2 linked regions of the Homo sapiens genome follow. The protein of the gene in region 2 interacts with the protein of the main gene of each other region in a pairwise test. Each region holds a gene or a part of one and is shown on either strand. Other genes may lie near its edges.

The links.
Region 1: the proteins of CUL5 (region 2) and ASB2 interact in binary tests that used the Homo sapiens proteins (3 or more experiments, as listed by UniProt).

What each region holds. Positions count from the first base shown.
Region 1 is NC_000014.9:93,966,571-93,970,070, reverse strand, and holds part of ASB2 (ankyrin repeat and SOCS box protein 2), read left to right. Parts: intron 1-100; exon of another isoform or gene 101-151; intron 152-3,500. UniProt on the Homo sapiens protein: Substrate-recognition component of a SCF-like ECS (Elongin-Cullin-SOCS-box protein) E3 ubiquitin-protein ligase complex which mediates the ubiquitination and subsequent proteasomal degradation of target proteins.
Region 2 is NC_000011.10:108,014,547-108,019,621, forward strand, and holds part of CUL5 (cullin-5), read left to right. Parts: intron 1-5,075. UniProt on the Homo sapiens protein: Core component of multiple cullin-5-RING E3 ubiquitin-protein ligase complexes (ECS complexes, also named CRL5 complexes), which mediate the ubiquitination and subsequent proteasomal degradation of target proteins.

The DNA of each region.
Region 1 (3,500 bases), on a different chromosome or scaffold from region 2:
GAGAGGGGAAGGTACTAGGAGGAAAAGACCACTTTTTAAATGCAATTTTGGTCCTCACTATAACCCTGCCAGGGTCCATGTCTCTTTTCCCATTTCACAGATGTGGAGACTAAGGCCCAACTTAGAAGAGAGCCGGCTGTGAATGAACCAGGTACTGCTCTGAGTGGATTTGCCTGAGTAATTTACGTGGATTAACCTAAGTAACCCTGTCACAGCCACTTTACAGATGTCACCTGGGGAAAGATGGGGCTTCTCAAGAACCAATGTTTGGGGTTCTGCAAAGAGGGCAGGAGAGGCACTCCTGAAGGCCCTGCGGGGCCAGGCCTCCCTTGCTCCACACTGGCCTTGGACTGGCCCCTCCCTCTACCAGGAAGCCTCCCTGATGGCTGGGCAAGGCCTATTAGACTCCTGCTTTCCTTGGGAAAGGGCTATTTTTGATTCCAATCAGCCTCCCAGAGTGTCCCTTGAGGCTGCTGGCCTCCCTCCAAGACTTAGGCCCAGAAGGCCGCCCAACCCCCAGACAGAGGTCTCAGAAATCAAGCTGGGCAGCATCTTCATGACAAGGGGAAACTGAGGTCCAAAGAGGGGCAAGGCATCACCCGAATCAATGCCCTCTCCCAAGAGATAGGTGCTCTGACCTTGTCCATTTTACAGATGGAGAAACTACTATTCCAGAGGCTCTCCCGGCTAACAACCAGCAAAGCTGGGATGTGAACTCAGTCAGGCTGGCTCCACACGCTGCTTCATAACTTCCCCCTCGTGCCAGGGCTGAGCAGCACCACCTGTCCCCCAGGAGACGCCGCCATAGCATCCCTGACAGCTGTCACCAGCCTACGACTGCATCCGTTCAGGGACAGGGAGTTTCCTGTCCTGAAGCGGCCCGTGCATTGCACACTTACTAACAGCCAGACCCACAGCTGAGCCTGTACACACATGAACCCTTTTGACTCTACCACCAACCCCATAATAACACTGGCTAATATCTCCATTTTGTGCATTTTATCCATTTTACCCATAAAGGTGGGTAACTTACCCAAGAACCCTTGAAGGCTGAGGACCTCAGTGGGAAAAGCAAGAGATATGTGGGTCCACAGTGGGGTAGGAAATTTGCCTCTTCAAAGGCAGAGTCCCTCTCTCTCAAGTAAACTCCATAACAGCTGTGCTTCCAAGGGTTTGAGCACTGTTGTGGTCCTATCATTCACCTGTCCATCTAGCATTTATTAAATACCTTTTGTGTACCCAGCCTTGGGTTAGGTCCTGGGGTTACGAGTATGACATAGTCCTGCTCCTCAGAAGTTTCCAGACTTTCTAGGGAGACAGGCCTCTAGCAGGTAGTCCAAGGAGTAGACTTTCTCAAGGTCCTGTCAAGGTTAAACCCTTCTCCTCCCTCTGCGTGTACCCTCCATGCAGCAGGCAAAGAGGCTGGTATGGTGCCCAGGGCACAGATATAGGCCAGGGGGTGCTGGGCAGCTGGGAGGATAGCTGGCTGCAGCTGGATGAGGACAGATCTGCTCCAAACCCATGTGTGTGTCAGTTGCTTGGGTCAGTGTTCCTGGAATTGCCAGAAAGAGCATTGGATTTGAGGTTGGAAGATCAGGCTTCAAATCCCAGCTTTCTATATGTCTCTCCTCCTATAAACCCTTCCCCTCCCGCTCTAAACCTTACCTGCCTCATCTGTAGAATGGGACCAATAACGTATGCGCATCAGGGTCCTTTTGGAAGGAGAGGGGCTGTAGAGGAATTAAGTTAATTCAGTGAAAATCTTCCTACCTTCCAGGGCTGTGTGAGGTAATGACATGGATAATTGGCCAATGTAAAGTCTCTGAGTGGTGTCAACCCATGGGAGAGGCTTGGGAAGGGCCTGGTAAGTCTGGAATTAGCTTCGGGATTGGTGATTCTGGGTGACCATTACCTGGCTGCCTTCGCCTCCAGGAAGGCACATGGTCAGGGAAGGGCCACTGCAGCCATGTGCTGTCTATGAGTCTCTGGCCCATACCAGGCTGCAGGGCCAGCAGCTGCCTGGAGATGATGAGGGGTCCCCACGAAATAATCATGTTACCCCTTACAAGCTGCCTACACATCTTAGCTCACATATGCTTCTACAGCATAGCGAAGTAGCTTATCTCCTTCCCATTTTTATTAATAAAGGAACTGAGGCCCAGAAAAGGGGAAGTGACCTGCCCCAGGTCATATAGCTAGTAAGTTGCAGAATTGAAAGTAGACTTAGGGGTCCTGACCTCCAGACTCAAGATCCCTCCACTCCCCCCGGGTTTTCTGTTCCCCCATGGCCAATACTAACCTCTTTTTGTCGACACGGCCATAGGGGATCCCCAGGGACAGAGAATTTGAGGTTTAATAGCACAGAGCCAAACCAAACGTCTCGCTGAGTTGCAGACTCTTTAGAACTGAAAAATCTGCGGAAAACTTCCAGCCCCAAATCGTCCTTTTGCAATGAGGAAACTGAGGCCCAGAGTAGGACAGGGACTTAGCTGAGGTCACAAAGCACTTTGGCCTTAGCAGGGCAATTATAGCTCAGCCTATGACTCTTAGTGCAGTGCTCTTCCCCCTTGTGCCCTGGCTTTGAGCAGACACCTTTAGATGGTGGCACCAGGATGCCAGGCCAGGTCCTGGGCACCAGCACTTCCTGCTAGTTCAGCACCATGTGCACTGAGCCCCTACCTTGCACCAGGCGGTGGGGTATGTAAAGCCAGACCAGCTTTAGAGAAGAGAAGGGTGTCATACCTCACTGGGCAGAGCCCCTTCCCCCCGCCACTGAAGGCAGACCTGGGCCAACTCAGACCTGGCAGGGACCCCAGCCTCAGAGAAGCAACAAAGGAGTGGGAAGCCAGGCCTGGGCCAGCTGGAGATGGGGGCTCCACCCAGCTGCACAGGTACCTCCTGCCAGTACAAGGGCCAGAGGACAGGCTCTAGTCTACCCTGCCATTTAACAGATGGAAAAACTGAGGACACAAGAGAGGAAGAGAGGCGCTCATGGCTGACTTGGGACAGAAACCCAAGTCCCTTGGTTCCCTGTCCTGGGCTCCTTTCACAATAAATAAAACTGCTGCTACTGCTGTAAATAACAGCACTCCAAGCATCGGGCATAAAATGATTGTGAGGTCATGACCCTTCCCCTCCTCTAGTGTGGACCACAGACTGGCCACCTGACATATTAATCTCATTGAGCAGGGGTTCTCAACTCTGGCCACACACTAACATCACCAGAGAAGCCTCTAGCATTGCATTCCCTGGGTCCCAGCCCTGAGGCTTTGAGTTCATTGATTCAGGGCTGAACCAGGTCCTTGACATGTTTTCAAGACTCTCAGCCAGGCCTGAGAGACATTCGTTAAGATGATTTGACTGCCTATAAGAGAAAACCCAACTAACATTGGCTAAACCACAAGAATCTTCAGTACCTAACAAGTAGGCTAGGGTGGGCGGACCCAGCATTGGTTCAGCAGTTCTGCAACATAATGAAGGACCCAGAAAAACTATTATTC
Region 2 (5,075 bases):
AGTTATTATATTTTCTGTATATTTATAATCTGCTTGTGAGATTGGCCATGGATGAGGGGCATTTGTGCCAGTGACATCTTGTTCATTGAAACCGTAACCATAGCAGGAGTAATTAAGTCTATGGGAAATACATTTATTCATTGAACGAGAATTTAGTATTTCCTAATTCTAACTAGATAATGATGAACTAGGCAGACAGCTCCTGCCCTTGTATAATTTACATTTTTGTTGGGAAGAGAGACAATAAACATAAACAGTGAAATACATACTGTAAGTCAAGTTGTGATAGGTACTATGAATAAAAACAACCAGGGTAAAAGAGAGAGTGCTCGGTGCTCTTATTATTATTATTATTTTTATTTTTATTTTTGAGACGGGGTCTCACTCTCTTGCCCAGGCTGGAGTGCAGTGGCACGATCTTGGCTCACTGCAACCTCCACCTCCTGGGTTCAAGCAATTCTCCTTCCTCAGCCTCCCGAGTAGTTGGGATTACCGGTGACCACCACCATGCTCGGCTGATTTTTGCATTTTTAGTAGAGATGGGGTTTCACCATGTTGGCCAGGCTAGTGTTGAACTCCTGACCTTAAGTGATCCTCCCACCTCAGCCTCCCAAAGTGCTGGGATTACAGGCATGAGCCATCACAGCTGGCTTATTTTTGATAAGATAGTGAGGGAATGCCTCTGAGGAGATAATAGTTGAGGTAAAACCAGAATGAAGCAAGGGAGCAAGTCATGTACATATTTAGAAGAGTTCCTTGTAGAGGGAACAGCCAGTGTGAAAGCACAGAGTCAGGATCATGCTTGGCAAGGAATATGGATGTGATACGAAGATTTGAATATCATCGGTGAATGTGGTTAAGGTGCATAACCAGAGAATTCTTTTTAATATGTCTAGTTAAACATAAATGAGAACCTTATTAAGAACTTGTCAATTTTTCATTGGGTTGATAGAAATTGCCCTCTTGAAACGTATATCTAAGAGGGACATGGGCCTTAGAGCGGCCTTCCCCTCCTTCAGTGTACTGTCCTAGAGAGATGGTTGCATTCGACACAGCCTAGGGAGGAAACAAATTTCAAGGGTGTCTGTGTTGGTCATGGGTAGGAATGGGAGAGGGAATAGTGGACTAATCAGTAACTGTAAAACTTTGTGATACATGTAAATGGTAGAATCTTTCATGTTCTATGAAAATAAATGATTGAACAATTACCATAATCTGGAGGTGATGTATGTTAATTAAAACTTCTAAAAGGAAGTGGCAGCTCAGGGTAAATTTTGATCAGTCATTTTTCAGTAGATTAGAGGAGGGGAATTTTAGACTGCTGGAAGGTAGAAAGAGGATACTAGGCATCTTTCTAGTAAAAAGAGAGGTTTTGTTTTTGTTTTTGTTTGTTTTGAGAGGAGGTCTCACTCTCACACAAGCTGCAGTGCAGTGGCATGATCATGGCTCACTGCAGTCTTGATCTCCCAGGATCAAGCGATCCTCCCACTTTAGCCTCCTGAGTGGCTGAGACTACAGGCACATACCACCCTAGGTCTGGCTAATTTTTTATAGAGATGGGATCTCACCATATTGCCCAGACTGGTCTCCACTCCTGAGCTCCAGTGATCTTCCTGCGTAGGCCTCCCAAAGTGCTGGGATTACAGGAATGAGCAAAAGAGCTAGTCAGCCAGAGAGGTTTTTCTTTTCTCTTCTCTTCTCTTCTCGTCTTCTCTTCTCTTCTCTTTTCTTTTCTGTTGAGACAGGGTCTCACTCTGTCCCCCAGTCTGGAGTACAGTGGCGCAGTCACAGCTCCCTACAGCCTTGACCTCCTCAGGCTCAGGTAATCCTCCCACCTCATCCTCCCACAGGTGCAACACCAGCATTCCCAGCTCATTTAAAAAAATGTTTAGAGACAGGGTTTTGCCATGTTGTCCAGGCTAGTCTGGAATTCCTGGGCTCAAGCAATCTGCCCTGTCCTTCCAAAGTGCTGGGATTACTGGCGTGAGCTACCACCCCTACTTGAGGTTTCTCTTAATAAATATTTTGCTTAGTGTCCTGGTGAACCCAGTTGTCAGTAAGAGCCATTTGCCTCCTGCCTTGGTTAGTAGGTGGAGGAAATAGATGCCTCATATGCTCTGTAAGGAAAGCAGGGCTGGGTGCAGTAACTCACACCTGTAATCCCAGTGATTTGGGAGGCCAAGGTGAGAGTATTGCTTGAGGCCAGGAGTTTGATACCAGCCTGGGCAACCCCATTTGTACAAAAACAAACAAAAAAAAACAAACAAAAAGCAGGATACAGCTCAGGTTAAAACTTTGGTCAGAGGCTGGATGCAGTGGCTCATGCCCAACACTTTGGAAAGCAGAGGCAGGAGGATCATTTGAGGCCAGGAGTTGGAGACTAGATTGGGCAGCATAGCAAGACCTACCACCTCTACAAAAATAAAAATTAGAAAACATTGGTCAAATCCATGGAGTACATACAAATAATATCAAAGGTAATTGATCTGTGTAGCTGTGGTTTGTTCATTCCATAAAAATCTGAGCATTTATGCTGTACTGGATACCATTTTAAATTTCAGGCTGGGCACAGTGGCTCACACCTGTAATCCAAGCACTTTGGGAGATTGAGGTGGGTGGATTACCTGAGCCCAGGAATTTTAGCCCACCCTGAACAGCATGGTGAAACTCGTCTCTACAAAAAATAAAAAATAAATACCTGGGGGTGGTGGTGTACGGTTTTAGTTCTAGCTACTCAGGAAGCTGAGTTGGGAGGCTTGCTTGAGCCCAGGAGGTTGAGGCTGCAGTGAATTGAGATCGCACCACTGCACTCCAGACTGGGCGACAAAGCAAGACCCTGTCTCAAAAAAAAAAAAAAAAAAAAAGTATCAGTGATACAATAGTGAATATGACAAAGTTCTTAGACTTTGGGGCTTATATCCTGATGGATGAATACTGACACTAAAGACATAAAGAATACACTTGCATAGTTTTTACTGGTAATTAGGGCGGTAGCGAAAACAACGTGATAAGAATGTTCAAGGCCGGATGCGGAGGCTCACGCCTGTAATTGCAGCACTTTGAGAAGCCCAGGTGGGAAGATCGCTTGAGCCCAGGAGTTCAAGACCAGTCTGGGCAACATAGTAAGACCTCATCTCTACAAAAAATTTAATAATTATCCAGGCATGTTAGTGCATGCCTGTAATCTCAGCTACATGGGAGGCTGAGGCAGGAGGATTGCTTGAGCACAGATCAAGGCTGCAGTGAGCAATGTTTATGCTGCTGCACTCTAGCCTGGACGACAGAGTGAGACCCTGTCTCAAAAAAAAAAAGTGTTCGGAAGGTGGAGCCACTATTTTACTCACTTATTTACAACAGAAAATAATTTTTCCCCAAAAAACTGCTTTTGACTATTTTTTGTTGAATGTTCTTTTTCTTCCTCATGTTGACATTTCAGCCAGATCCTATAGCTTTCCTGGGCTTTTCTTAAAAGTCTGGTTATTCCAAATTAAAATTTCAGTCTCATAGCCAATCAGAGTGTCTCTTGTACCATCTCAAGACTTTGTCTCTGGATGTGCAGAGAGGAATGGAGGAAGGGCATTTTTCTTAGGTTGGTTTGGGAGGCCTGAGGTGGCATTGGAGCTGAGACCTGAATGATCTGCATTCTAAGGCAAAGGTCTTGAGGTGCAGTGATGAGCTTGGCCTGTTTGAGGAACACCTTTAAAAGGTTGCTGTGGCTGGAACATAGAATTGCAGTAGTAAGAATTACTGGTATTCAAATATATACAATCAGCCCTCAGTATTCATGAGTTCCATGTCTGTGGATTCAACCAACCAAAGATTAAAAATACTCAGAAAAGGCTGGGGGTGATGGCGCATGCCTATAATCCCAGCACTTTGGGAGGCTGAGGCAGGCGGATCATGTGAGGTCAGGAGTTCAAGACCATCCTGGCCAACATGGTGAAACCCCATCTCTACTAAAAAAAAAAAAATACAAAAATTAGCTGAGTGTGGTGGCACATGCCAGTAGTCCCAGCTACGCAGGAGGCTGAGGCAGGAGAATCACTTGAACCCACGAGGCAGAGGTTGCAGGGAGCCGAGATCACGCCATTGCACTCCAGCCTGGGTGACGGAGTGAGACTGTGTCTTAAAAAAAAAAGAGAGAGAGAAACATCACATATATGCACTTAATGTGGCACCCGCACACATTTATTTTTATTAAGCCACCTCACTTTTGTTGAGATAAGAAAGATTTTATGAATCCCCTATAGATGCAAGTAGTGTACTTGCAATGTAACAATGGTTATGAGCTCAGCCTCTGCAGCCACACTGCTTGGGTTGGCCTCCAGGTTCTGCCATTTGCTAGCTGTGTGGTATTGGGCAAGTTACTTAACATCTCTGTGCCTCAGTTTCTATATCTATAAATAGCAGTGATCTCAAAAAAACCTCAGAAAAAAATTGCGTCTGTATTGAATATGTACAGACCTTTTTTTCTTATAATTCCCTAAACAGTACAGTATAGCAGCTGTTAGCATTTACATTATAGTAGGTATTGTAAGTAATTTAGAGATGGTTTAAAGTGTATGGGAGGATGTGCATGGGTAATAAGCAAATGCTATGCCATTTTCTATCAAGGACTTGAACATGTATGGGTTTTGGTATCCCGATGGGTGGGGGTGGGGGTGGGGTGGGGTGGATCCTGGAATCATTTCCCCACAGATACCAAGGGACAACTGTACAGTAGTTTGATTCTTTTGGTTAGTGGGGATTGGCAAATGGGGTTTTAAAATCACATAACTGGGAGCAATAGTGGCTTCATAAACAGTAAGGGAACCCACACATTCAAATAACTAACCTCATAATTCACATGAATTATCTAAAATACGACAACTGAGTTCCTTTGGTAAAGTTATTAGAGTGCCATTAATTGGATATACAGTCATTTACTGCATATTGATGTTTTGGTCAACAACGGATCACATATATAATGGTGGTCTTATAGGATTATAATGGGAGCTAAAAAATTCCTATTGTCTGGCAATGTTTATTGTAGCCCTTGTAACGTAGTAGTGCAATAACACATCACTCGTGTCTGT